Homo sapiens: one gene and its partners. The protein of the gene in region 1 purifies or fractionates together with the protein of each later gene. This does not show direct contact. Each region holds a gene or a part of one and is shown in the gene's direction. Other genes may lie near its edges. The genes, in order: DNAJB8, ESS2, SCGB2A1, FKBP5, LCN1, WDR81 and C9orf40.

Region 1 (4,055 bases):
TGACAGAATTGACGGTGGAGCGTGTGGGGCCTAAGTGTGCGCTCATGCCTGTGTGTCCCTGTCCCTCCAGCAGGCCCTATGGAGGCCTCAGAGCCCCTGATGCTCCCCACTGGCTCCCCAAAAACTGGCGTGGAAGGAGACTAGCCTGAACCCTTTGCAGAAGGGAAACTCCTCTGCACACTGCCCGGCTCCACGGTCCACAGCTCCCTTCATGGGGAGCTCCCCACAGGGGCCTCCATCTCAGGATGCCCTTGATGGTGAGGTGTGGGACCTGCTCCCAGGTGACACACCTGTTCCCGTAAGTCCTACCGAGTGGTCTGTTCTGTGTGCCCTAAGACAGCCCTGAATGGGCGGCAGTGAGGGGGTCTCCAGCCCTGTCTCCATCCTGGCTGACTCCCACAGACCCATCCCAGGAACAAGGGTTGGAGCAGGGCAGTGGCTGGAAGAAATTTCCCCTGGGAGTACAACGCAGACCAGAGCCAGGGTCTCCAACAAGGCAGGGAGGGCCAGGACGGGGAGGCGGCCACAGGATTCTTGGATGCCTCATCATACTAGGTCCTTTGTCTCTTAACATTGTTTTCACCACCCCTCCTCCACTGTCCTGATTCCATCGTCATGGAAACTTCAGGCTTCACCTTTACAATGTCAGGCCACCAACACCCTCAGCAGTGTCACCATCACCATCAACACCCCAGCGTCCCATCCCCATCTCCTCTACCACTGCCACCAGCCCCACTATCACTATCATCTCTGTCACCGTCACCACGGTGCTCTCCACCCGTGTCAGCATTGTGTCACCACCACATCACTGTCACCACACTTCCTCCACCTCCATCTCCACCCACCATCCCATCTGTGACATCACCTTATCAGCTCTGCCACCAGTATCAACCACTCACACCGCCTTTGCCATCACCACCGTCATTGCCCCCTCTACTACCACCACCATCACCACCACCGGGTCTGCCTCAGCCAGACCCACCACTGCCTCTAATTAGACTGCCACCATCATCACTGCCACCACCACTGCCCCTCCAATGCCTTCCTGATGTCACCATCTGCTTTCTCTCTGCTATCCTCACACCCAACTCCATCACAACCACCACCTTCATCTGAGCCGCCATCACCCTCACAGTACACAGCCCTCAAATGTGTACCAAGGAGGAGGACATTTACTACACGCTGCACCCTGAACAGTCTGGGACCAGCGGTCAGGGAACAAGGAATCGAGATGCTCACCTGCAGCTCCCAGGTGAGCGGCTCTCTAGAGCTTGCCTGGGAGCTGCTGAGGAGCTCACGGTATTCCAGGAAGCTCCCCATCCATGCCTCAGCCTGTGGCTCAGAAGCAGGGTCTTCGCAGAAGATTGCCCCGAGCTGTTGCAAAGCTCACCATTGTCACCTGCCTGCAACGGCCTCTCTTTTCCACTCTCCAAATCCCTTGTATTGGCAGGCTCTAGTCTGGAATTATACCGGTGATGGGATTCTGGAAAATCCCTCAGATTTCTCCAGGATGCAAGGAGACCATGGAAGAGGTTGGTGTAATGCCAAGTTAGCAACAGAAAATACAGAGCCCCACACCTCAGTGCCATCACCATCGCCATCGGCACTCACACCAGCATGTCCACCACTGTGTCCTTCTCACCCCTCGGCACCCCCCTCTACCATTGCCTCTTCCACAACCACCCTCACCACCATCCTCCATTAATAGCACAATTCCTGCCTCCTATCCCATCACCACCACGGGTGTCCCCGGCACCAGCAGCACCAACACTGCTCCCAGCAGAGCCATCGTTACCAGCCCCGCTGTCAGTCCCATCTTGAGCATCTGGCATATGTTGGAGAACTGCTCACTCCCTCTTCCCCATGGGAATCTCAGGCCTCTCTTCCTATTGCCCTGAGATTTGCAGAACCTTCCTGAAGGAAACATTCTTTGCCCCATGGATACTGGCCTTGACCATGGGATGCAGCAAGACTGCCACACATCATGGCCCAACAGAAGCTTTCAGAGGCAGCCCAAGTTCCTGCTGTCTCTGAGTGGCACTGTCATGAGAGAGGGGTGTGCAGGTCAGAGCTGATTCTCCAGCCTGGGACCCACAGTGAGAAGCTATGGGAGGTGGGGCCCTGGCAGCTGCCTGTAGGCACCAGTGAGTGAAGTGGGGGGAACTAGATGTTTGTCGTGAGCCACTGAGAGGTGGAAGCTGTCACTGTGGTATAGCCGAACAAGATACAACCTCTGCTACCTCCACCACCTTCACCTTCATCATCACCATTACTGTCACCACTGCCAACCACACCAATGGCTCACTAGGAGCCATTCCCATCACCTCCTCATCATACCTGCACCATCACTGCCAACCACAACAAAGGCTCGCTGTTACCATCTCCTCTGGCATGACCATCACCACCACCACTACCATCATCAATTACTCTCAAGCACAAGCCTTGCTGCTGTCACCACCAGCATCACCATCATCATGATCAACTCCACCATCACCCATAATTACTCTCCCCCTCACACCCACCATGACCATTACCTCCACATCAACACTGCTCCCATGGTCACCTCTACTATATAATGACACCTTATCCATCTCCATGGACACCCACCGTGCCTCTCCCCACCAGCAACACAGTCAACAGCAGTGCCTCTCCCACTGCCACCGCCATCATGGAGAACTGTGCAGGGCAAGCATCTTTCTCCCGCCCCAGGAACAAGCCTGCAAGGGACAGCAGGTGCTAACTGCTAACCGAGACATAGTGACAAAAATCCAGCCACAGAGATAAAGAATCAGGTTCATCTGTAGCTACATCCAGTGGAGAAGTTCTGCTCTTCAACTCCTCTGCTAAGCCACATGTGTCAGCAGGTGTAGGTGGGTGGATGCCCAGCATGGGGGTGCGAGTCGTGCTTTTGATAAGCTGCATGGAGGGACAGCGATGGTCACTGGAGGCTGGGTTTACAAAGTGTCTCTACAGTCTGTCTCCATTCCTCCTGGCATTTGGGATTGGTTAGAACACACACTGTCCCCTGCTAGGAGCCTGAAACCTAGCACCCATGAGCACTGAAAGAAAAGAGAGAGAGGGAGGATAATAGAAAGGGATGAAGACTAGAAAAAGGAAGAGGAGGAAGAAGGGAGGAATGAAGGAAGGAAGGAGGAAGGAAAGAAGCCAGGAGTGAAGAAGGGAGGGAAGGGAGAAGGGGGAAGGGGAGGGAGGAAGGAAAGAAAGAAGGAAGGAAGGAGAAAGGGAGGAAGGAAGGAAGGAAGGAAGGAGGAAATGAAGGAAGGAGGGGGAAGGGAGGGAGGGAGGAGGGAAGGAAGGCAGGGAACGGAAGGGAAGGGAAGGGAAAGAAGGAGGGAAGGAGGGAGGGAGGAAGGGAGGAAGGAAAGAAGGCAGGCAGGAAGGCTATCTTTAGTTAAGACTTGGTGACCCAAACATCTAGGCTCTTTATTGGTGTGGTTAGTAGGTGGTTTAGCATGGTTTTGATCTTAATTGGAGTGGGGTGAGGTGAAGGTAGGAACAGATATTAATCAGTATTGTGAATTGCTGTTTCTATATATGATCCAACACCAGAACAAGAATTAAAGGAATATAAATGCCTAAGAATATTTGGTTACCTCACTCACCTGATTCGTTTTCTAGGGCTGTTACAAATTATTACAAACTGGGTAGCTCAATACAAAAGAAATCTCTTCCCCCAGTTCTGGAGGCCAGAGGTCTGAAATCGAGGTGTTAGTGGGGCCGCACTCCCTCTGGAGGCTGCAGGGAGAACCCTCCTGGCCCCCAGCTTCCAGCTGCGTCAGTGTCCATCTCCTATACGGACATGTGTCACTGGATTTAGGGCCCACTCAGATAATCCAGGATGATCTCATCTCGACATCCTTAATTTAATTACATCCGAAAAGATCCTTTTTCCAAATAAGCTCACATTCAGAGGTTCCAAGGATTAGGATAGGAACATATCTTTTTGGGGGCCACCATTCAACCCACTACAGTCAGTAATCAATATTTATCATCAATTCCTATTTTTCTTACCAGAATTGAGTGGAACACTTCTT
Region 2 (3,500 bases), on another chromosome or scaffold:
TCAGTCGGCCCTGGCCACTCCTGGCCTCTACCTGGCCTGCCCCACACCTTGTGTAACTCAGGGACCTGGTCTCCTGTCTGTACAAGGCCCTAGAGGCCAGGTGTCCAGGCTGCTTGGGGCCGTGGGTGGGCTGGACTCTCAGGCAGACCTGGCCTGAGACATCCTGGGATGACGTGTCCTGTCCTGGTCCTTACTGTGATGTCAGTGGGTGGGGGTGTGTGCACAGTGCTTATGAGTCTAAGTCTACCTAGCACTGCAGGGAGGGAGGCCCAGCACCTCAGTGGAGGTGAAACTCAGGTGGTCTTGTGGCATGCGTGGGTGTCCCTCTGCACTCTGGCCTCTGTGCTCTTGGGTGCTGGTGCTGTGTCACACGCCAGGGCATGTGAAGGCACCACAGGTTTGCCTGGGGTTCTAGGAGGTTTGGGAGCCCTGGAAGGCCTGAGTGTCTCCTCCTGCGTGGCTGGGGGAGACCTCCCAGAGGCTTGTAGGCTAAGCACATGGCTGTAGGGCCTTGAGCCTGCCTCGGGCCTGCTGGGAGCTTGGCATTTCCCTTTCGGAGGATGGAGGTGCCAGGGTTCCAGAGTCCTGGGGAAGGAGAGAGGGCTAGCTGCCTGCCTTCGTATTAGCTGGGATGCACATTGGGTGAACAAGCTGTGACTGGAGGGGAGGGTGGTGGGGAGTCCTCTGGCCTGAGGTGGTTTTGGGCTCTTTGTCTGCAGGTGTGAACGAGTCCCCGATGATGACCTGGGGGGAGGTTGAGAACACACCCTTGAGAGTTGAAGGGTCGGAAACGCCCTACGTGGACAGGACACCCGGCCCAGCTTTTAAGGTGGGTTGTGGTGATGGGGGAACTGTGTGCGACCGGGGTGGACACCTCTGGAGCCCTGAGTGCCTGTGGCTCAGGACTGAGCACTGGGATCGGCCCCCAGCTGCTGACGGGCAGAGTGCTGGCTTTTCTGAATGCCAGGGTGCTGAAGGCAGGTGTGGGTGGGTGGACCTGTCACAGAGGGATTTGGGGGTGTAAGGGCTGAGACACCAAGGCAGGGAGTGGCTTGGGCCCTCTGGATCCTGGAGGCCGGGTGCTGTTCATGAATGAGGCAGGATGGTCACAGACACGTGAGGAGCTCTGCAGGCCTGAGGGCCATAGGACGAGGCTGTGTGCTTGTAGAGAAGGCCCCTGGTTACAGAACACGATTGGGACACGCTGGATTACACGGCTCAAGCCTGGTGTTGTAGGAGTGGTCAGGGTGGAGTGTGTGAGGCCCGGCACAGACCAGGGGAGGCTCTTCGTGGGCTGGGTCAGATACAACAGGCCTCCCCATACCACTGCGGGCCTTTCCCCAGAATACTTAGTACAGGTAACCCATGTCCAGACAAAACATGGGGAGAGGTTCTGGTTACCTTGGTTCTAAATTGTCTGGGACACAAGGATAACCAAGGCAAACGTGCGAGAGGGATAATGAAGAGGATGCCGTGCTGTCCAATGTGAGAGCGCAAGGCAAGGGCTGAGGTGCTTCTGAGGTATGCCTGCCACTGCTTCCCGAGTCTCCAGGCCAACAGTAAACAGATAAATTCTGAAACAAACCATGATCCAAGTCAGAATTTGGGGCCCGATAAAGATGGCAACTCAGATTGCACTGAATAGCAGAGTATTTAGAAATGAAGGGAGCTGGGTCCTCAGGATGTGTAGCAGCATACATTGTGGAAAGGTGAAAAGGTTACATGTAAAAACAATAACCATAAAACAACCAGAAGAAAATAGTGGCGAATATTTAGTTTGATTTTTGGGTTCAAGTGATTCTCCTGCCTCAACCTCCCAAGTAACTGGGACTAGAAAATAGTGGCGAATATTTAGTTTGATTTTTGGGTTCAAGTGATTCTCCTGCCTCAACCTCCCAAGTAACTGGGACTACAGGCGCGTGCCACCACGCCCGGCTTATTTTTGTATTTTTAGTAGAGATGGGGTTTCACCATGTTGGCCAGACTGGTCTCGAACTCCTTGGCCAGACTGGTTTCGAACTCCTGACCTCGTGATCCACCCACCTCAGCCTCCCAAAGTGCTGGGATTACAGGCGTGAGCCACTGTGCCTCGCCTCTTTTTTTTTTTTTTTTTTTTTTTTAACAGATAGGGTTTCACTCTGTTGCCCAGGCTGGAGAACAGTGGTGCAATCATAGCTGATTGTAACATTGAGCTCCTGGGCTCAAATGACCTTCCAGCCTCAGCCTCCTGTGTAGCTGGGACTAACAGCATACACCACCATGCCCAGCTAATTTTGTGTGTGTGTGTGTAGAAATGAGGTCTTGTCATTTTGCTCAGGCTGGTCTCCAATGCCTGAGCTCAAGTGATCCTCCCACCTTGGCCTCCCAAAGTGCTGAGGTTCCAGGTGTGAGCCACCACTCCCAGCCTGTAGTCTAATCTTAAGTTAGGAGGGACTTTCTAAACATAAAAGCAAAGGAAGAAATCACAAATGAAAATAACAAATACAGCAGAAAATGTTATAAATGAAACAAATGTAAATGAGTGAAAAAACATGTGCACAGCGTAGCACAGTTGACTTGACACAAGGTCTTGGCAAGGGTCTTCTGAGTAACAGCAGCAGAAAAGGAAAATGAGCCCCTTGAGAGCAAAATAGGCCACAGGCACACGGGGAAGCGCCCGAAATACAGAGCGCCGATAAAGACAGAGATGTTCACTCTGATAATCAGGGAAACACTAAAACAGACTGCTTTTTCCTGAGAGATTGTCAGAGGTCATGGTTTTGGGAGGAACACGAAGACAGGTGAGGAGTGCTGCGCCTTGGGCAGGTCAGGTGGGGTTTGGGGCTTTCCAGGGGCTTTTAGTGGGAGGTGATGGGTTGTGGGGGTTTTGTAGGCAACAAAGAGAGGCTGGCACCCACCACAGTGGCTTTCTGTGTGAGGGGCTGCCTGGCGTGTGGCAGGCCTGGCGCAGCTACCCACACACCTGCTACCTTGTAGATCCTGGAGCCAGGCCGCAGGGAGCGGCTGGGTCTGAAGATGGCCAACGAGGCCGCTGCCAAGAACCGGGCCAAGAAGCAGGAAGCCTTGCGGAGAGTGACGGAGAATCTGGCCAGGTGAGGGGCCGCCTGGCTGGTGGGGAAGTGCGAGGGTGGCTCTGGCCTGCTCCTGTTCGGCCCCTGCCCTGACCGTGTGGAGGCATGGCCCACGCGGCAGAGTCCAGGGCAGGTCCGCGGGGTTCTGCAGTGGGTACTGTGGCAGCTCCTCTATCCAGAGCATGGCCGCACATGGACAGGATGAGAGGCCCCCTCCATCTTCTCTTTCCTCCACGTCCTCTTTGACCCGTCCCTAAGAGGCATCTTTAGGCGTGTGGTCCTGCTGGGAGCTTTCATCAGCCCTGTGGAGAGAGTCATCGTTCCCCTTGGAGAGGGGTGGGGACTCCAACTCTCAGAGGCCTGGGGGTGCACCCCAGCCCCCACAGCCAAGGGCGGTGCTGCTGTTTGACCTCAGGTTTGACCTGAGCG
Region 3 (4,065 bases), on another chromosome or scaffold:
TTCACAAAGACAGAAAGGAAGCCCAGAGGGACCAGCATTGTAATTTGCCCAAAGACACAGCATGAGTACGTGTGGCCTCCAGGATCCACACCCACACCTGCCCAAATCTTATCACCTAAATCTCATCATCACCCAACCCCATTGCCACCCACTGCCTAGCACTGCCTGCCCAAGCAGTCAGTTACTCCACTCACTCACAGCATCCTCTCAGTCAGTGGATAGAAAACCGTAAAAGGCTAACAAAGAACTAAGCACAAATTAAATTATAAATATATTGTAAAATAAATTTGTAAAGTTGAATTAACTTAGTGTTGTAATTCTTAACAAGAATAACAAGAAGCTTTCAGTAGAGGTTAGATATTAATGTTTTCCCCAAAACTTAAAGCACTTTTCGGGGCTGGGCATGGTGGCTCACGCCTGTAATCCCAGCACTTTGGGAGGCTGAGTGAGGTGGATCTCCTGAGGTCAGAAGTTCGAGACCAGCCTGGCCAAAATGGTGAAACCCTGTCTCTACTAAAAATACAAAAATTAGCCAGGTGTCCTGGCGCATGCCTGTAATCCCAGCTACCCAGGAGGCTGAGGCAGGAGAATTTCTGGAACCCGGGAGGCGGAGGCTGCAGTGAGCCAAGATCGCACCACTGCACTCCAGCCTGGGCAATAGAGTGAGACTCTGTCTCAAAACAACAACAACAACAGCAACAAAACCCCAAAAAACAAAAACAAAAAAACCCGCTTTTCTGAAAAAGAAATGTCTATGGATTAGGAAGGTCTGCCTCCCATAGGAAGATGCAGGTATTGCACATAGCCCAAATATTTGATGATTCCAGGACCGGCAGATACACAAGTTATGAAACTGTTTGTACCTTGAAGAATAACGAGAAGAGGAGGAGACCAAGAGGAATAGAAGAAAAAGAATAGAAGGAGGAGGAGGAAGAAGGGAAGGAGGACTAGAAGAAAACTACAATAATAACAACATTGTTGAGACCACAAGATCACGCCACTGGGTTTTGCTTTATATTTTGGAAAACACTGTCACATCCATTTTACTAAAAGCCATGTATCATTATTGTAGTCCCCAGATTGTCAGGGATCCAAATATTACTGCCTTCTTGGTTTCTACAAACAGAGCACAGGCTGGCTGTGTTCCCATTGGTGTACACTATTGTGTCCTGGTCCCATGCCAGGTTGACACATTGCCTCATTCCTGGGAGGGACTAAGGTGCCTCCCTGGGGAATAAATAGAGCAGGGCTGGGTACTCACCTCCACAGCAACTTCCTTGATCCCTGCCACGCACGACTGAACACAGACAGCAGCCGCCTCGCCATGAAGCTGCTGATGGTCCTCATGCTGGCGGCCCTCCTCCTGCACTGCTATGCAGGTGAGTTCTGGGCAGAGAGGGCTGCTTCTGGGCTAGGAATTGTCACCTGGGCCCCTGTAGAAGAACTCCCAACCTCTAATCCCCAGCACAGACGAGCCCCAGTGTGAAGGGCCTGGGTGCGATAGGCCTTAGGATCCCCATGAGTTCCTGACAATCAAGCATGCAGTGTCCTCATGGGCTGTCCCCTGCATTGGAGCTGCACACAGTGTATCATGGCACTCAGCGTCTCACCATGGTCACGGTGACCATAGAAACCAGGATGAGTCTCAGGATTAAATATTGAAATGAACTATTTCAGTGGGGCAAGGGAGAGATGGCATCTACACCTAGAAATCAGGAAATAATCATGGGTCTCCTTGAATATGGAACGAAATAGGAAACCTCCCAGGACAGAAGGCCCAGGCTGCAGAGTGTGACCCAGTGTCTCTCACCCTGTGTGGCTCACTCTGTGTTCTCAGAGTTGATCTGGGTCCTTCTGGGATGCCCTTACCCTCCCAGTTGCTTCAGGCTCAAGGCAGACAGGTGAGAACTCACAACCCCTGGAGTCTCCTTCCAGCACTAAAGATTCAGTGGGAGGAAAAAGCCCCGGCTGCTGGAATCAGCGCTAATATTTCCATAGGTAGCCTGCCTTGTGCAGTTCACAAAGGTGGATTCCAAACCCTACCGTATTGGCATCCAAGGTAGGTGCAGATGTGTAGAAGGGTGACAAGCTCACAGTCAACTAACTGGAAAATCACAAAGTCCAGAGCACAACCAGCTCACATGAAGCCACGTCCTGAGCTCGTTCCTCTCCCTTACAGTGGGAGGTGACCTCAGATCCCCTCATGAACAAGCTCTATTTCACATTCATGTGTGTGTGTGTGTGTGTGTGTGTGTGTGTGTGTGTGTGTGTTTGAGACAGGGTCTTGCTCTGTCACCCAGGCTGGGACTGGGACTGGTGTGCAATGGCACAGTCTCAGCTCACTGCAACCTCTTCCTCGAAGGCTCAAGTAATGCTCCTGCCTCAGCCTCCCGAGTAGCTGGGACTACAGGTGGACACCACTATGCCTGGCTAATTTTTAAATTTTTTGTAGAGATGAGGTCTCCCTGTGTTGTCCAGGCTGGTCTTAAACTCCTGAGCTCAAGCAATTCGCCTGCCTTGGCCTCCCTAAGTGCTGGGATTACAGGCGTGAGCCACCATACCTGGCCACACATTCCCTTTTATTGCAGTAGAGTCAACAGAACTAATGGACAATGTCCTAGACCCATTCATCTGAAATCCTTGGAAACCCTACCTGATGCTGGGCATGATAACAGGGAAGCATTGCATGACTTTGAACCAAGAAAGTCCAAGTAGTGTTTGCTATGTCCCCCCAGTCAGAACACCTCATTTCTCGAGGGTCCTCTTCACCAAGAATACACAGGGTTGGGCTTCTCTGGGTTTGGAAGGTCAGAGAGAATTTGCAGAGCCTGAGTTTACACTCCCAGAATTGAGAACTCTGCATACTGCACCAAAATCTTTCTGAACCTCGGTCTGTCCCTGGAGGTACGAAGATAGCCAGCTTCCCAATTCATCTGTAGAATGAATCACACCTCTAGTAATGGCCCATGTTCTTGTGTCTTTTTTTTTTTTTTTTTTTTTTCCAGATTCTGGCTGCAAACTCCTGGAGGACATGGTTGAAAAGACCATCAATTCCGACATATCTATACCTGAATACAAAGAGCTTCTTCAAGAGTTCATAGACAGTGATGCCGCTGCAGAGGCTATGGGGAAATTCAAGCAGTGTTTCCTCAACCAGTCACATAGAACTCTGAAAAACTTTGGACTGATGATGGTAATTTGGGTTTCTTCTTATGTACCCTTTGAAAATCACTGATCAGAACCAGCGGGCTCTAAATTTGGCACCAAGAATGCCAAGCAACTGGTGAACAAACTTTCTTTATATATCAATTCATTAAACTTTGTCTCCAGGCTGCTTTGCCACTTCACATTGAGAATCTTTAGGGAGTGATAAATGGAAAAGGCAAAAAGGAGAAAAGAAAGCCTTAGAGATCACCCGTCTACCTCTGACCTCACCAGTCCCTTCTCACACAGACACAGACACACATAAGCACACAAGTATAGACACACACAGACACACGGGGACAGGCATCGGCATTTTTTTTTTTTTTTTTGAGACGGAGTTTCGCTCTGTCACTCAGGCTGGAGTGTAGTGGCGTGAATCTCGGCTCACTGCAACCTCCACCTCCCGGGTTCAAGAGATTTGCCTGCCTCCACCTCCCGAGTAGTTGGGATTACAGGTGTGCGCCACCACGCCGGGCTAATTTTTGTATTTTAACTAGAGAAGGAGTTTCACCATGTTGGCCAGGCTGGTCTCAAACTCCTAACCTCAAGTGATCTGCCTCCCTTGGCCTCCCAGAGTTCTGAGATTACAGGTCTGAGCCCCCGCACCCAGCCAGAACATGCACATTTTTATCAAGAGAAAATATCTGGTTCTCAAGAGATCACACACTTGTAGGAGCAATCTACTAAGAAATTTCCTACTTTCACAAAAACAAATATTCAAAACATTCTTATTTTTTTTTATCTAGCTCAGAAAATACAATTTGTGCAAATTCTGCATTTTCTAAAATAAAGAAAAAAATTTTTTTGAGATGGAGTTTCACTCTGTTGCCCAGGCTGGAGTGCAGTGGCATGATCTTCGTT
Region 4 (3,500 bases), on another chromosome or scaffold:
AAAGTAACTTCCTTTTCATTTTTTTAGTGGCATAGTCTAAAACTGCTCACAATCCTTTTGAAAGACTAAAGAATAGGCCAGGTGTGGTGGCTCATGCCTGTAATCCCAGCACTTTGGGAGGCCAAGGCAGGCGGATCACAAGGTCAGGAGTTCAAGACCAGCCTGGCCAACATAGTGAAACGCTGTCTCTACTAAAAATACAAAAAAAAATAGCTGGGCTTGGTGGCGGCCACCTGTAGTCCCCAGCTACTCGGGAGGCTGAGGCAGGAGAATCGCTGGAACCCGGGAGGCGGAGGTTGCAGTGAGCTGAGATGGCGCCATTGCACTCCAGCCCTGGAGACAGTGCGAGACTGTGTCTCAAAAAAAAAAAAAAAAAAAAAAAAAAAAAAGACTAAAGAATATTAGCACCAAAGAACATAGCCCAGAAGCCTTGCTGTACTACACCTGCTGAAGGGACGGATGGAAATGCTGCAGAGCAGCACTAGGCAGTGCTCAGGCACTGCCCCAAACCAGCCCACAGGCCATCGAGGCCTCCAAGGGAGTGGGAAAGGTACCTGGAGAGCCATCTCCAGAAGGAAAGAAAGAAACCAGCTGTACCAGGGTTTGCTGGAGGGGTTGCTTCACTTTGAGGATTTGCTTTTCTTTTGTACCCCCTCAAGAGCTGAGTACAAGTAATGACGCTTTTTTATCCTAGGGAGGCAAATACATGCAGGCGGTGATTCAGTATGGGAAGATAGTGTCCTGGTTAGAGATGGAATATGGTTTATCAGAAAAGGAATCGAAAGCTTCTGAATCATTTCTCCTTGCTGCCTTTCTGAACCTGGCCATGTGCTACCTGAAGCTTAGAGAATACACCAAAGCTGTTGAATGCTGTGACAAGGTAACATCGTGTCTCCTGTGAGATGGACTTTAGATACTCCAGATCTTTTCTCCATCTCTGTCTTTTGCTTCCTCTCAGCCAAAGGTTGCAGGATTTTTCATTTTGCTTTTTTTTATTTATTTGAATGTTTGGGATTATTTGTTTCTCAGTATGAATTGGGAAATTCAGCAAGATTTTTATTACAGTCAGACTTTTATGATACCTAGACTGTTTATCATAATGCATTCTGAAGAAAAGTTTTGATTAAAATTAAATAATTTTTATCCACGACCTTCCTTATAACTGTAGTATTTATATCAGAGTAGACGTATAACTCCTCAGGTTCAGTTTAATAAGAGAAGATTTAACTTAAGCTTTTCTGGACTTTAACAGACTGCAACTGTTCATATAAAGCATATATATAGGTCAATTTTTATTATAATCATTTATTCACTGATATGCATAAATAATATGAAAGGTCCACAGAGCATCAGCAGCCTTTTTATTTTTACATTTGTCTTATTAATACTATCTTTGGTCTTTTGAGTGCTTACACACAGTACTCTATAACAGTGGTTTATCATCTGTATCGTTATGTATCGTTCTGATATATTTATACACCAGCCGATACTATTTTAGGTATCTGGTCTCAGAGTGAACAGTATATATTATACTGTGGGTAAAAGTAAAAACTAATCATTGGATGTATCTTAAAGGTAGACATAAAAGGATAAGAAAAGCAAGGCAACTATTTTGTACATTCTTTGTGAGATTATTTTTGAATTTTGTGGATCAGTGTTTCCTATCGCATCCTCTCTCCCAAGACCAGTTATTAATTTTATATGTATTTTTTCGTTTTTTTCATACAGAGCGGAGAGAGAGAGAGAGAGAGTGTGTGCGCGCGCGCGTGTGTGTGTTTTGTTTGTTTTAGAGACAAGTTGTTGCTATTTTGCCCAGGCTGGGGTGCGGTGGCTATTAATACACATGAACATAATGTACTACAGCCTCAAACTCTGGGGCCCAAGCTATCCTCCCACCTCAGCCTCCTGAGTAGCTGGGACTACAAGTGCATGCCACCACACCCTGCTAATTTTTAAATTTACTTTTGTAGAGATGGGGGTCTTCCAAAGAGCTGGGATTAAAGTTGTGAGGTACCACACCCAGCACAGCCTTGACTACATTATTTTTCTGTCTTCTATTGACAGAAGCAGTCATATAGCATCACTATTAACCCTATCTTTGGCAATAGGAAGCCTGTTCTCCTTATTTTCCTCTTTTTTTTTTTTTTGGAGATGGAGTCTTTCTCTGTTACCCAGTCTGGAGTGCAATGGCACAATCTTGGCTCACTCTAACCTCCACCTCCCGAGTTCAAGCGATTCTCCTGCCTCAGCCTCCCAAGTAGCTTAGACCACAGGTGCCGACCACCACACCAGGCTAATTTTTGTATTTTTAGTAGAGACAGGGTTTCACCATGTTGGCCCGGCTGGTTTCCAATTCCTGACCTCAGGTGATTTGCCACCTCAGCTTCCCAAAGTGCTGGGATTACAGGTGTGAGCCACCACAACCCAGCAATTTTCTTTTAGCTTTGTTGATTATATCTTTCTCTTTAAAGAAGGTTTTAATGTTTATGTAGTCAGATTTGTCGTCTCCTTTCTAGTTAGAAAAGACTTCCCCACACCAAGATTATAAAAATAACTGAAGCCAGGCACAGTGGTTTACACCTGTGACCTGTAACCCCAGGACTTTCGGAGGCTGAGGCGAGAGGATTGCCTGAGCCCAGGAGATAGAGGCTGCAGTGAGCTGTGATTGAGCCACTGCCCTCCAGCCTGGGCGACAGAGTGAGACCCTGCCTCAAAAAAATAATGATTATATTTTACATATTTTAAAATAAAAAATAATTGAAACATTTTATGGTTTTTTTTAATATGTAAATATGGTTGATCTAGAATTTACTTTTGTGCTTACAATATGAGGTAAGAACTTTTTTTTTTTTTTTTTTTTGGAGACAAGAGTCTCACTCTGTCACCCAGCCTGGAGTGCAGTGGCACGATCTCAGCCCACTCCAACCTCCACCTCCCTGGTTCAAGCAATTCTCCTGCCTCAGCCTCCCAAGTAGCTGGGATTACAGGCGCCTGCCACCATGCCCAGCTAATTTTTGTATTTTCAGTAGAGACAGGATTTCGCCATGTTGGCCAGGCTGGTCTCGAACTCCTCACCTCAGGTGATCACCTGCCTCAGCCTCCCAAAGTGCTGGGATTAGGGTGTGAACCACTGCACCCGGCCTTAACTCTTATTTTCTATGTGGATAGCTGCCATCCTGGCCCCGTTTATTTTAAAGTTAACTCTCCACTGATTCACATTACCACCTTTGTCATTTTCAAATGTTTTTATATGCAGACACATGACTGTTTCTGAATGATTCGTTCTGTTCCACTGAGCTGTTTGTCCACATGCTAGTAACCAAACTGTCTTAATTTCAGTAGTTTTAAAGTTTGTCTTTTTCTCTGGTAAGACAAGTGCCTCTTATTTTTTTCTTTTTTCCCAAATTTTTTCAGCCATTCTTGGGCACTTATTTGTTCCAATGAACTTTAAAATGAACTTCTCAAGAGCCCCCTCTCAAATCTCCTTGGGATCTTTCTAG
Region 5 (4,033 bases), on another chromosome or scaffold:
TTTTTAAATCACTAGGCATCTTGATCATACTCCTGCAGTTTTAAAGTGTGTGTCAGACTTTCCTTGGCTGGTGTAAGTTCCTGTACCAATTGCTCATTTTTAGCCTGCCTTTCTTAGTGTGGTGTTTCCTTGGGTAATTTGGAACCTGGCCTTTCTAGCTTATTTCAAGGTGAGGATATTGTGTCTCTGCATTTCTGCCTTTCTCTGCCATCTTGTTGTCACTGTCCTCTGTCTAGCAGTGTTTTGTAGCCTCTGCTCCCATCCCGGGTCCCAGGCTTCTGCTCTGCAGTGATGCAGAGCATGTCACAGATAAAGTCATCCTTTCCAAGGACGGCTTGTCTCAGCTTCTGCCCTTGAGGCTGTGTTGATGTCCTCTTGCCTTCCTATGCCCACAGTGCTCCACTAAGTTATACGAAGTTACAGCCCTGGGATGTGTCAAGGAGGGTTTCTCAGCCTTCTTTCTGGAGTCAGGGAAGCCCCTCCCATCACTCCCAGGAGCCGGACCTAGGCCCTCTCTGCCTGCCTTGGGACTTGGAGCTGACAGGCCCCTGCCTCTGCCCCATCACCAGCCTGTGCTTCTCCTCCATTCCTTGTTTTATGTGAGTGTGTGTGCGTTTGTGCATGTATATATGTACACACATGCATACACACACACACACCTGTCTTGGTCTTCTGTCTGTCTGACCTATTGCTGCTCTGTGTGTGGAGCAGAGAGGGTCGTTACTGCACACCTTGCTCAGGACAGTGGACACCGTCTTTAAATGCACACGGGATCGTGTTCACACAGGAGGGTCCCTTTTTTTCCATGATGAATCTGAGGCCAAGTAACCTGCCCAGAGATGCAGGAAGCTCAGCTGAGCCCCAAGCCCACGGCCCTCGGACTCCAACCCCAAACCCCCTTGACAGTGTGCACGTCAGCAAGTGTGGGATGGCTGGGGGGCATCTGTTACGGCTGCACACGTCCCCAGGAGGCCTGCACACCCTTCACTCCCTTCAGTTTCCCTTCAGGTGAAATCTGCAAATCTGCTCCTCTGGACCTGGTCCTGTCCAAGTGATCCTCTGGGATTAACAAGCTGTTATTCACCAGCCTCCAACAATAATGGCAGGTTATCTGCTCCATTGCAGAACTGGCAGTGGTTTACATCCAGGAAGGGATTGGTCAGTCTCCTGTGCCAGGTCCCTGGGGGACCCTGAGCCCAGCGGTATAAAGGGCGGCTGTGGGAGGACTGGTACAGCCTCTCCCAGCCCCAGCAAGCGACCTGTCAGGCGGCCGTGGACTCAGACTCCGGAGATGAAGCCCCTGCTCCTGGCCGTCAGCCTTGGCCTCATTGCTGCCCTGCAGGCCCACCACCTCCTGGCCTCAGACGAGGAGATTCAGGATGTGAGGCCCGGATGGGAAGGCTGGGCTGGAGGGGGCAAGGGGCGAGGCTGAGACTGGATGGAGACCCCATGCCTCCTCCATCCAAGGAGACCCTCGTTTTTGGGTTGGGCATTCAAGCCCTGCCCTGAGGGAATGGTGGGATGGGGCAGCAGGGGTCTGGGCTGGCAGGGTAGGTGGCGCAGGGGTGCAGAGTGGGCAGGGCTGGGAGGGTGGGGGTCTGGCTGACTTCACTTCTTCCCTGGGGATGAGGGCTCCTGTGGTCCTGGCTGGCTTGTGGGGGCTGGAGCCACCTTCAAGTGGGCCTGGCGAGGGTGCTGGGTGTTTTCTGGGTGGGTTAGATTGGGGAACGTTCCCCGTTTCCAGCCCTCGGGGTGCGGTAGAGTCTAGGGGCTGCAGGCCAGGGAAGGGGGAGGCTCTGGAGCAGTCGGCCTGAGCCTGATAGAGAGGGGCCTTCTCCAGGTGTCAGGGACGTGGTATCTGAAGGCCATGACGGTGGACAGGGAGTTCCCTGAGATGAATCTGGAATCGGTGACACCCATGACCCTCACGACCCTGGAAGGGGGCAACCTGGAAGCCAAGGTCACCATGCTGTGAGTGTCTGCCAGCCGGCCGGGCAGCCTGCAACCTGGTCTAGGGCCTTCCCTTTCCCCACCCAGGAGAGCTCTGGTGCTGGGGAGGTGGGCAGACCTGCTGGGAGGCCTCTCTCGGCCCCTCCTGCAATGCTTGAGGGCAAACTGTGCCACTGAGGTGCCTCGGCTGGAGGGGCCCTGAGGGGGCAGAGGCCCCGGATCAGACCCTGTGGGCTACCAGTGGCAGCCCTGGGTACCGCCCACTTCCTCCTCCGACTAGGGAATGTCTGGTGACGTGCAGGCCCCTTTGGGAAAAGGTGTTTACCCCCGACCAGAGTCAGAGCCAGTCCTGGCAGTAAATTTCTGCTTTGGAGAAGTGCAGGGATGGGGCTTGCAGAATGACCAAGAGGGGGCATAGGAGAAGACACCATGGAGAAGACCCCCTTGAAATCCCTGTGTAGCGCTCACCTGTGCGGCTCTCACCTGGGCTGCTTCCACCCGCGTGGCTCACATCTGTGACTTCCCACCTGTGTGATTTCACCCGCATGGCTCCCTCCTGAGTGGCATGCAGTGCCTGTGCTCCGGTCCTGGGGGCTGAATCTCAGGAAGTCACTGACCCTGGCAATGACCCCGATTTTTTTTTCCCCCAAAGCCCCTCACTGAACCTTTCCCTCTCTGGGCCAGATGATGATGGATATGGGGCTTGTGCCTGAATGTCTCTAAAAGGAAGAATGCAGCTGGCGGGATGAGGCTCAGGCCCACGCCACAGACGCTGCCTGCAAACCAGGCAGCCTGGGTGCCTCTGGCAGGAAATGTGTTGGGGGCGGGGGGTTTGGGAAGGCAGCCACCAGGAGGAGCGGTGCAGAGCTCCTGGCCATCTCGGGAGACCCCGGGAACTGCCGCATGGGACCCGGAGGGGCCGCTGGTGCCTGGGTCTGAGATGCAGAGAAGCACCCTCCTCCATGGGCCTGTGGCAGACTCGGGGCCACATTTGCAGGGCATTGCAGCATGGTTGCTCCAGGGCCGGGGGAGGCACAGGCCAGGGCCGCTTTGCCAGGGGGCTTCTGTTTTCCAGGATAAGTGGCCGGTGCCAGGAGGTGAAGGCCGTCCTGGAGAAAACTGACGAGCCGGGAAAATACACGGCCGGTGAGTCCCGGGGCCTGAGCCAGAGCCTGAGCTTGAACACACGCTGGATGTGCGGGGGCAGCCAGTGCCTTTTTGGGGTGGCCTTTTGGCCTGGGAAGCCTTTTGCTGCCTTCTGACTCCACTAAAAGCCCACTCTCTTCTCCCACTGGTCAATTTGCATTAGAGACTTGAACACCTGACCCCAAACACCAGGTGTGGCAGGTTTGTCCCGGGGCGGACCCTCTGGGCTTGCCCTGTAGCCCTGGCTGTGGCTCTGGCAGGGCCAGGAGCAGAGTCGTATTTGGCTGCGGGGGGCTGTACCCCAACTCCCACCTCCGCAGACCTCATACCCGGAGGAACCCCCCGTGACTCACTGGTTTGGGATGTGGCCGCCTCTTGGGTACATCAGGTTCCTGGGAAGTGGGGGTCCCATGGCCTGGGGCTCAGGCCTGGTGGGGAACCTGGGTCAGGGAGCTCTGGGAGGCTGGGAGGGTGCAGGAGCTGCGGGGCTTGCTGGGCCTGGCAACGCACGCTGTCCCGGGATCCTCTCTGAAGTCCCTGGTGGCTAATTCAGGAATGTGCTGCTGTCTTTCTGCAGACGGGGGCAAGCACGTGGCATACATCATCAGGTCGCACGTGAAGGACCACTACATCTTTTACTGTGAGGGCGAGCTGCACGGGAAGCCGGTCCGAGGGGTGAAGCTCGTGGGTGGGTCCCGCACCCTCACCCTGCAACCCATGCCTCCACCTGCCCTCCCTCCTCCCTCGGCCTCCTGCACCCTCTTCCCCATGGGAGAAGCCACTGGGACCCAGGAACCCACTGCAGTTTTCTTAGGATGAGTTTTCCTGATAAAGGCCTCAATTCCCACCCCTGGAGTTCAGGATTTGGGATGCCCCGGCCTCGGTATCTGCAGCAGAGGCAGGAAGGAGCCACGGCTGCAGGCACAGGGGTTCAAAG
Region 6 (3,500 bases), on another chromosome or scaffold:
TCAGCCATGAGGTCCTGCTGCCCGTGCTCAGCTTCCTCACCTCCCTCGTCACGGGGTAGGCCTCTGCCCCAGCTGATGTAGGGGGACCGGCCCAGCGGAGGGGCTGCCCAGGAGGGGGTGGGAAGCTCAGGGGAGAGGACGTAACACTGGACTGGGTGTCAAGAGTCCTGGTTTTGATCCCGGCTGTGTGACCCTGAGCAAACCACACCCTTTTCCTGTGCCTCAGTTTCCTCATCTGGTTTGGACCAGTTGGTCTTGGAGCTCTTTCATTTAAAGCTTTTGATATGTCCGGGCACGGTGGCTCATGCCTGTAATCCCAGCACTTTGAGAGGCTGAGGCGGGAAGATTGCTTGAGCCCAGGAGTTCAAGACCAGCCTGGGCAACAAAATGAGACCCCCTCTCTAAAAATATATATAAAGGCCGAGCGTGGTGTCTCACCCCTGTAATCCCAGCACTTTGGGGGGCCAAGGCGGGTGGATCACGAGGTCAGGAGTTTGAGACCCACCTGGCCAACATGGTGAAACCCCGTCTCCACTAAAAATACAAAATCTTCGCTGGGCATGGCAGCAGGTGCCTGCAATCCCAGGTTCTCGGGAGGCTGCAATCCCAGGTTCTCAGGAGGCTGAGGCGGGAGAATTGCTTGAACCCAGGAAGCGGAGGTTGCAGTGAGCTGAGATCACGCCATTGTACTGCAGCCTAGGCGACAGAGCAAGACTCTGTCTCAAAAAAAAAAAAAAGTATATATATATGCTGGGTGCTGTGGCTCATGCCTGTAATCCCAGCACTTTGGGAGGCCAAGGTGGGTGGATCGCTTGAGGTCAGGAGTTCGAGACCAGCCTGGCCAATATGGCAAAACCCTGTCTCTACTAAAAATACAAAAAAAATTAGCCGGGTATGGTGGCTCATGCCTGTAGTCCCAGCTACTCGGGAGACTGAGGCAGGAGAATCGCTTGAACCCGGGAGGCAGAGGTTGCAGTGAGCCGAGATCGCACCACTGCACTCCAGCCTGGATGACAGAGCAAGACTCCATCTCAATAAAAATAAAAATAAATAAAGATTTTGCTAGATTCTGGTCAAGTCCTGCAGAACGGCGGGCTGGAGCTCATGAGCTCTGTTTCCAGGTTCCCAAGTGGGGCCCAGGCTCGGACCATCCTGTGTGTGAAAACCATCAGCCTCATCGCCCTCATCTGCCTGCGCATTGGACAGGAGATGGTCCAGCAGCACCTGAGCGAGCCCGTGGCCACCTTTTTCCAGGTCTTCTCTCAGCTGCATGAGCTTCGGCAACAGGTGGGCAGATCTGCTGGGCCAGGGCGGGCTGGGGCGGGGGCTGTGGACCTGGGTGACCCCCTGGGCATCTTGCTCATAGGATCTGAAGCTGGACTCCGCGGGCCGTGGCGAGGACCAGGGTGGGCCAGGGTGGGAGCTGTGGACCCGGCTGACCCCCTGGGTGTCTTGCTCATAGGATCTGAAGCTGGACCCTGCGGGCCGTGGTGAGGGCCAGCTGCCACAGGTGGTCTTCTCTGATGGGCAGCAGCGGCCCGTGGACCCCGCCCTGCTGGACGAGCTGCAGAAGGTGTTCACCCTGGAGATGGCATACACAATCTACGTGCCCTTCTCCTGCCTGTTGGGTACTGCCCCATCACGTTCCCCATCACAGTCTTCGTGGCTGTCTCCTCCCTTGGGAGGCCCCATTCTCTGCCCTTGCCCCAGAGTCAGCAGTGGGTTCTAAGAGCCAGCAGGATGGGTGAGAGCAAAGGGATTTGGCCTCAGACCCCTACCCCCAAGGTGACACACAAACAAGGACTGAGCAGTAGCCAGCAAGAGAGGCCCAGAAGCTGGCCTGTAGTGTCCCTGGGGAAGGCAGGAGAGTCAGGGAGGTGGACTGGCGGTCCGCAGGAGCTGGCGAGAGGGAAGGAGTGGCCTCCTGTTTACGAAGCTTCCCCTCTGGGCCCTGCACGGTGCTGTGCTGATCGTTTCAGCGTGTCATCTCCCTGGAGAGGACAGACAGCCTTGTGGTTACACCTGTTATCATCCTGCCACTGAAATCTAAGCTTGGGAGGCCAGGGCACCACCTGTCTTGTTCCATATTCTATTCCTAGTGCCCAGCACGGCACGGCACATATAGAAGATGCTCATGTGTACATCACAACGGAATGAATCCACATTTCACTGAGGAGGAAACTGAGGCTCAGAGACAGAGTTACTTGCCCAGAGTTGCAGAGCCAGTTCCTGCCCCATCTTCTGTGGCTCCCGAGTCCTTGGATGGGTGATAGCAGCCGCCTGCCATCTTCCCTGTCTCAGGACCTCTCCCACTCCTATCCAGGTGACATCATCCGGAAAATCATCCCCAACCACGAGCTGGTTGGGGAGCTGGCGGCGCTGTACTTGGAGAGCATCAGCCCCAGCAGTCGCAACCCTGCCAGCGTGGAGCCCACCATGCCCGGCACCGGGCCCGAGTGGGACCCCCATGGTGGGGGCTGCCCTCAGGATGACGGCCACTCAGGGACCTTTGGGAGCGTCCTGGTGGGGAACCGCATTCAGATCCCCAATGACTCTCGGCCTGAGAACCCCGGACCACTGGGCCCCATCTCGGGGGTGGGTGGCGGGGGCCTGGGCAGCGGGAGCGACGACAACGCCCTGAAGCAGGAGCTGCCGCGGAGCGTGCACGGGCTGAGCGGAAACTGGCTGGCGTACTGGCAGTACGAGATCGGCGTGAGCCAGCAGGATGCCCACTTTCACTTCCACCAGATCCGCCTGCAGAGCTTCCCGGGCCACTCGGGGGCCGTCAAGTGCGTGGCACCCCTAAGCAGCGAGGACTTCTTCCTGAGCGGCAGCAAGGATCGTACCGTGCGCCTCTGGCCGCTGTACAACTACGGCGACGGGACCAGCGAGACGGCCCCACGCCTCGTCTACACCCAGCACCGCAAGAGCGTCTTCTTCGTGGGCCAGCTTGAGGCCCCGCAGCACGTGGTGAGCTGTGACGGGGCTGTGCACGTCTGGGACCCCTTCACAGGTGAGCGGGCCCAGGTGAGGCCTGTTCTCTTCCTGCTCCTGCGCCCCACCAGGCCTCCAGGAAGGGGGCCCGAGGGTGGGGCTGTAATGCTGCGGAGTTTGGGGAGACCCAGCGAGGCCGCCTAGGAGAACAGTTAGGGCTTCGAATCTGTTAGACTTGAGTCTGAATTGGCTCCACCGGCTTACTTGCTGAGTGACCTTGAGCAAGTTCCTGCTGCTGGAAGCGTCTCCTTTCCCATCTATAAACTGAGAATCAGAAAAACTGGCGTAGAAGATAACACACAGCCGGGCGCAGTGGCTCACGCCTGTAATCCCAGCACTTTGGGAGGCTGAGGCGGGTGGATCACGAGGTCAGGAGATCGAGATCATCCTGGCTAACATGGTGAAACCCCGTCTCTACTAAAAATACAAAAATTAGCCGGGCGTGGTGGCGGGTGCCTGTACTCCCAACTACACAGGAGGCTGAGGCAGGAGAATCTCTCAAACTC
Region 7 (3,830 bases), on another chromosome or scaffold:
TGGGATTACAGGCGTGAGCCACTGTCAGGCCCTCTTTTGAGGAAAGCCCAGTAACACTCCTATTCCTTCTTTTTGTTAGATTTGTTCTGGAGGCGCTTCTCTTTTACAATCATGCTCTCTCCAGCTTCTGTTTCTCCTTCCTGCCTCCAAAGACACAGGCTTTTTGTTTTAAGGATTTTATACCTGATTACCAAGGGAAAATTGAATATAACAAAAAGAAGTAAACAGTTCAATACAGTAAATGCCTGGTTTCTTTTGTGCTCAGAATAGGGCTTAAGTCCCAGCCCTCACCCTTGGGACTTCATTTAGGAAATACTACCTCAAATACCTTTTTTCTACATTGAGAATACAATCTAGGCAGGATAATGTTACGTCATTTCTGTCCCGGAACTTCAGGGTATTTCCTGTTTCAGATGTTTTTTGACTACAGAAATAAAATCAGGTATTCATTAAATATTCATGTATTTTTTTCATGTTAGTGTCACTATGTAGATTCACTGCTCTGTCAGTGTTAACTGTTAGTTTCTTGTTTATTTGTTTGTTTTTCATAAATTGAGATGGAGTCTTGCTTTGTTGCCAGGGCTGGTCTCAAACTCTGGGGCTCAAGCGATCCTTCTGCCTCCCAAAGTGCTGGGATTACAGGTGTAATCATGCCCAGCCAACTGTTAGATATTCTTAACAGAAAGTAAGCAGAAATGCTCTAAGGAGACAGTGATTAATGATTCATAGGCTTATTGGGATATAATACCTAGCAATATTGAGCAATTACTATGCCAAGCCTGAATTTTTACAACAGTCCTCCATTTTATCAATAAGGTCAAGATCAGAGTTAGTGGGCGGTGGAGTTATCTTGCAAACCCAGGTCTGTCTGGTGGCAAAGTTTGTGTGCCCTTAGTCACTATGTTTTACTAACATAATTAAAAGACCTTTTTTTGGTCCATGTTTATAAGTAGATAATTTGTACAGTAGATTTTCCAAAATATTAAAGTGAAATTTTTCTTAATATCTTTTGACTTATTGTGTGTTTATCCCAATATTAAGAAATTCCCCCAAAACTTAATTCTTTAAGGCTCAGCATAGAAGACAGTGAACTTCCTAATGAGACTTTCTTACAGACCTGTGCTGTCCAGCACAGTAGCCACTAGGTCATGTGGCTACTGAGCATTGATTTTTTTTTTATCTTTAATAAAATGATCAGTTTAACATTTTCTTGCTATTCGTCATGTTTATAACCTAATACTTTTTGGAAGATTTCAAAATATTTTGGCCTATGTAAAGTAAATCTCCTAAAATACCAGACCTTAAGAACAAGACCAAAAGTAAGTTATAAGGAGTGTGTCTGTGTTTGTATTTTTAAAATAAATTCTTCTTTTCCTTCTTGAAAGATAAAAAATTTTAAGACTTTTTAGATAATTTTCTTTAGGTGAAAAATGGGAGAAAAACTGTGGAAAGAGATGCTCTTGGAGGAAATTCCTTTAAATTTAACAAATACTTTCACAAATTGTAAATATTAAAATGCACAGATTTCATCGAGTACATGAAGTACTTAGATGAGACAAAATTTAAAATGTATATTTGTTAAAAATACAAAATAGAAGATTACAAAATCTTATATGAGTTTGCCTTTAAAACAAATTTGTTTTCTGAAAAAAACTTAATTTTTTCTAAGCTATTGATGCTCTTTGATCTCTCTTTTTTCTCTAAAGCACAATGAAGAATTTTGGCAGTATAATACCTTCCAGTACTGGAGGAATCCTTTGCCTCCTATTGATCTGGCAGACATTGAAGATTTAAGTGAAGACACCCTGACAGAAGCAACACTTCAGGGCAGGAATGAAGGGGCTGAGGTTGACATGGAGTCCTGATGTAAGGAGCCGAAGCAGTGGGATTGGCTGATTTGAGGAGATGTCTCTAAGTGAATTCTCGTATTCTTAAGGGAAAAGTTATTTTCCATACTTGAAGTTATATTTCCAAACCTGAGAAATGAAGAAAGATTGTTCTGACATTAAATACCTACAGTTACTACTGAACCTCTTAATAAGGATTTGTCAAGGATAGAGTACAGTTGTAGGGGAAGTATTTTATGTATGCATTCTTAGAGCAAAAAGTTTTGTTTAAATTCTAGAATTGAAGGTACTGATCTTATAAAAAGAAATTCTAGCAGTTTTAGAAATAGGTGGGAAAAACTCAAATATTCCTCCTATCTGCACCAAAAAGTTTATTTGTGGTATATAAAATGAATATTGTTTTATAATAACTTGTTAATAAAGTACTTTCTAATACATTCTATTGACTCTGTTAGTTGAACAAATAGCTGACTTGAACATCTATGCAAACTTAAGATGGGCGGGATTGTTGTAAAAGCTATTGTTTTAAAAGAGCTTTCTAAATGTAAAGTAGTGATAATTTCAATTTGGGTAGCGTGTTTGCAAAGCTTCCAATATTTGATGTTGGTTAAGCTCTACTATGGGCAACTGAAGATGGATAAAGAAAAATGAAAACTGAATCGGTGCCTGCTTCCCCCTGTTTTCCCAGGATTAGAGGAAAAAATTTATTGTATAATCAGCTTCTTGGTTTTGAATTGCTTCGAGGCATGGTTTTATTCCTTATTACTTTAGACCTGTAGTTTTCAACACTGACAGCACTTTAAAAATCTTTGCCTGGGCCTCACTCTTGAGAGATTCTCATTTAATAGTTCTGAGGTGGGTCTTGGATATAACTATTTTTTTAAACACCTGTCCTGTTTCCCTCCATTCCTCTCATGTGCAGACAGGGTTGAGAACCAGTAGACTAATGGTCGTTTTTCCTGTTTAAAGGAGATAACTAATTTGAGCTGAAGCAATGCTTCTTAATTAGCTTTGTTTTTGTTTTGCTCTGTTGGTGGCTTTGTTACAACTGAATTATTGTGTTATTACTATTTCATTGTTAAAGAAATAAAGTAAGCAATTTGTGATGTGAGTATCAGTGATTAAGTTAACTAACTTTTGTACTGCATCCAGAATGTTGGTTTTGCAATTGAGTAACTGGTTCTTGCTTGCATTTTTTGTTGTTGATGACATTAGATCCAAAATTCAAGACAAATGGTAAATGCCATTGAGAGGGAAAGAGAAAAACTTGATTTTTTTTGTGTAATGAAGGATTTAAGAATGGGTTGACATTAATAAGAATGCTTTAGAACAGAAGACAAACTGTATTGCATTGTGGTCAGACATGGTTCAAAGTCTTGTACTGCCACTTCCTACCTATGTATCTTTAAGCCAGTTATTTTTCATCTCCAAGCCTCAAATTTCTCACCTGTAAAATGAGAAATAATAAATAGTATCTACCTCAGAGAGACTGTTTATTGTCAAGCAATGTTATAAGTACTTTACTTGCATCATCTTGTTTAGTTCTCATAATAACCTTAAGGTAGGTTAAAAAAAATCATTAGAATAAACATGCTGCCTATAGTTAAAGTTTTAACTGCCTCTAGAAGTTTCAGGATAGAAATTGGAATTGAAACTTTCAGCTTATGATATTTTCAACTTACGATGGGTTTATCAGGACATAACCCCATGGTTAGTTAAATGTACTAAATTTATATCACTTTCACACTGTGGTAAAGCTGAAAAATCCTGTCAAACCATCAAGTCAGGGGCAGTCTATATATAGAAAACAGAAAGAGTTAAAATAATTCCGTCCTTTAAAAAAGTTGTTTACTAAGTAAACTTGAGGTAACAGCAAAATTTCATTGTGGATAAATTGAGGTAAAATGTGGGTTTTTAAATGTGTTATAACCCTTCACCCCAATTCCCTAATGTAACATCTTAAATTACCACAGTACACTTATG

Evidence for each region.
Region 2: the proteins of DNAJB8 (region 1) and ESS2 purify together in Homo sapiens (affinity purification with mass spectrometry; 3 studies listed by BioGRID and IntAct, with this or other methods). This does not show direct contact.
Region 3: the proteins of DNAJB8 (region 1) and SCGB2A1 purify together in Homo sapiens (affinity purification with mass spectrometry; 3 studies listed by BioGRID and IntAct, with this or other methods). This does not show direct contact.
Region 4: the proteins of DNAJB8 (region 1) and FKBP5 purify together in Homo sapiens (affinity purification with mass spectrometry, with the first as the bait; one large-scale study listed by BioGRID). This does not show direct contact.
Region 5: the proteins of DNAJB8 (region 1) and LCN1 purify together in Homo sapiens (affinity purification with mass spectrometry; 2 studies listed by BioGRID and IntAct, with this or other methods). This does not show direct contact.
Region 6: the proteins of DNAJB8 (region 1) and WDR81 purify together in Homo sapiens (co-immunoprecipitation; one large-scale study listed by IntAct). This does not show direct contact.
Region 7: the proteins of DNAJB8 (region 1) and C9orf40 purify together in Homo sapiens (affinity purification with mass spectrometry; 3 studies listed by BioGRID and IntAct, with this or other methods). This does not show direct contact.

The regions. Positions count from the first base shown.
Region 1 is NC_000003.12:128,464,091-128,468,145, reverse strand, and holds the start of DNAJB8 (dnaJ homolog subfamily B member 8), read left to right. Parts: upstream 1-1,255; 5' UTR 1,256-1,532; intron 1,533-2,709; 5' UTR 2,710-2,870; intron 2,871-4,032; exon of another isoform or gene 4,033-4,035; 5' UTR 4,036-4,055. UniProt on the Homo sapiens protein: Efficient suppressor of aggregation and toxicity of disease-associated polyglutamine proteins.
Region 2 is NC_000022.11:19,134,652-19,138,151, reverse strand, and holds part of ESS2 (splicing factor ESS-2 homolog), read left to right. Parts: intron 1-719; coding exon 720-829; intron 830-1,205; exon of another isoform or gene 1,206-1,813; intron 1,814-1,892; exon of another isoform or gene 1,893-1,943; intron 1,944-2,976; coding exon 2,977-3,092; intron 3,093-3,500. UniProt on the Homo sapiens protein: May be involved in pre-mRNA splicing.
Region 3 is NC_000011.10:62,207,408-62,211,472, forward strand, and holds the start of SCGB2A1 (mammaglobin-B precursor), read left to right. Parts: upstream 1-1,265; 5' UTR 1,266-1,324; coding exon 1,325-1,379; intron 1,380-3,005; coding exon 3,006-3,193; intron 3,194-4,065. UniProt on the Homo sapiens protein: May bind androgens and other steroids, may also bind estramustine, a chemotherapeutic agent used for prostate cancer. May be under transcriptional regulation of steroid hormones.
Region 4 is NC_000006.12:35,577,416-35,580,915, reverse strand, and holds part of FKBP5 (peptidyl-prolyl cis-trans isomerase FKBP5), read left to right. Parts: exon of another isoform or gene 1-359; intron 360-694; coding exon 695-880; intron 881-3,500. UniProt on the Homo sapiens protein: Immunophilin protein with PPIase and co-chaperone activities. Component of unligated steroid receptors heterocomplexes through interaction with heat-shock protein 90 (HSP90).
Region 5 is NC_000009.12:135,520,207-135,524,239, forward strand, and holds the start of LCN1 (lipocalin-1 isoform 1 precursor), read left to right. Parts: upstream 1-1,233; 5' UTR 1,234-1,291; coding exon 1,292-1,381; intron 1,382-1,840; coding exon 1,841-1,971; intron 1,972-3,025; coding exon 3,026-3,096; intron 3,097-3,673; coding exon 3,674-3,784; exon of another isoform or gene 3,785-4,033. UniProt on the Homo sapiens protein: Could play a role in taste reception. Could be necessary for the concentration and delivery of sapid molecules in the gustatory system.
Region 6 is NC_000017.11:1,731,204-1,734,703, forward strand, and holds part of WDR81 (WD repeat-containing protein 81), read left to right. Parts: coding exon 1-55; intron 56-1,121; coding exon 1,122-1,287; intron 1,288-1,462; coding exon 1,463-1,628; intron 1,629-2,323; coding exon 2,324-3,013; coding exon of another isoform or gene 3,014-3,027; intron 3,028-3,500. UniProt on the Homo sapiens protein: Functions as a negative regulator of the PI3 kinase/PI3K activity associated with endosomal membranes via BECN1, a core subunit of the PI3K complex.
Region 7 is NC_000009.12:74,946,083-74,949,912, reverse strand, and holds the end of C9orf40 (uncharacterized protein C9orf40), read left to right. Parts: intron 1-1,706; coding exon 1,707-1,865; 3' UTR 1,866-3,330; downstream 3,331-3,830.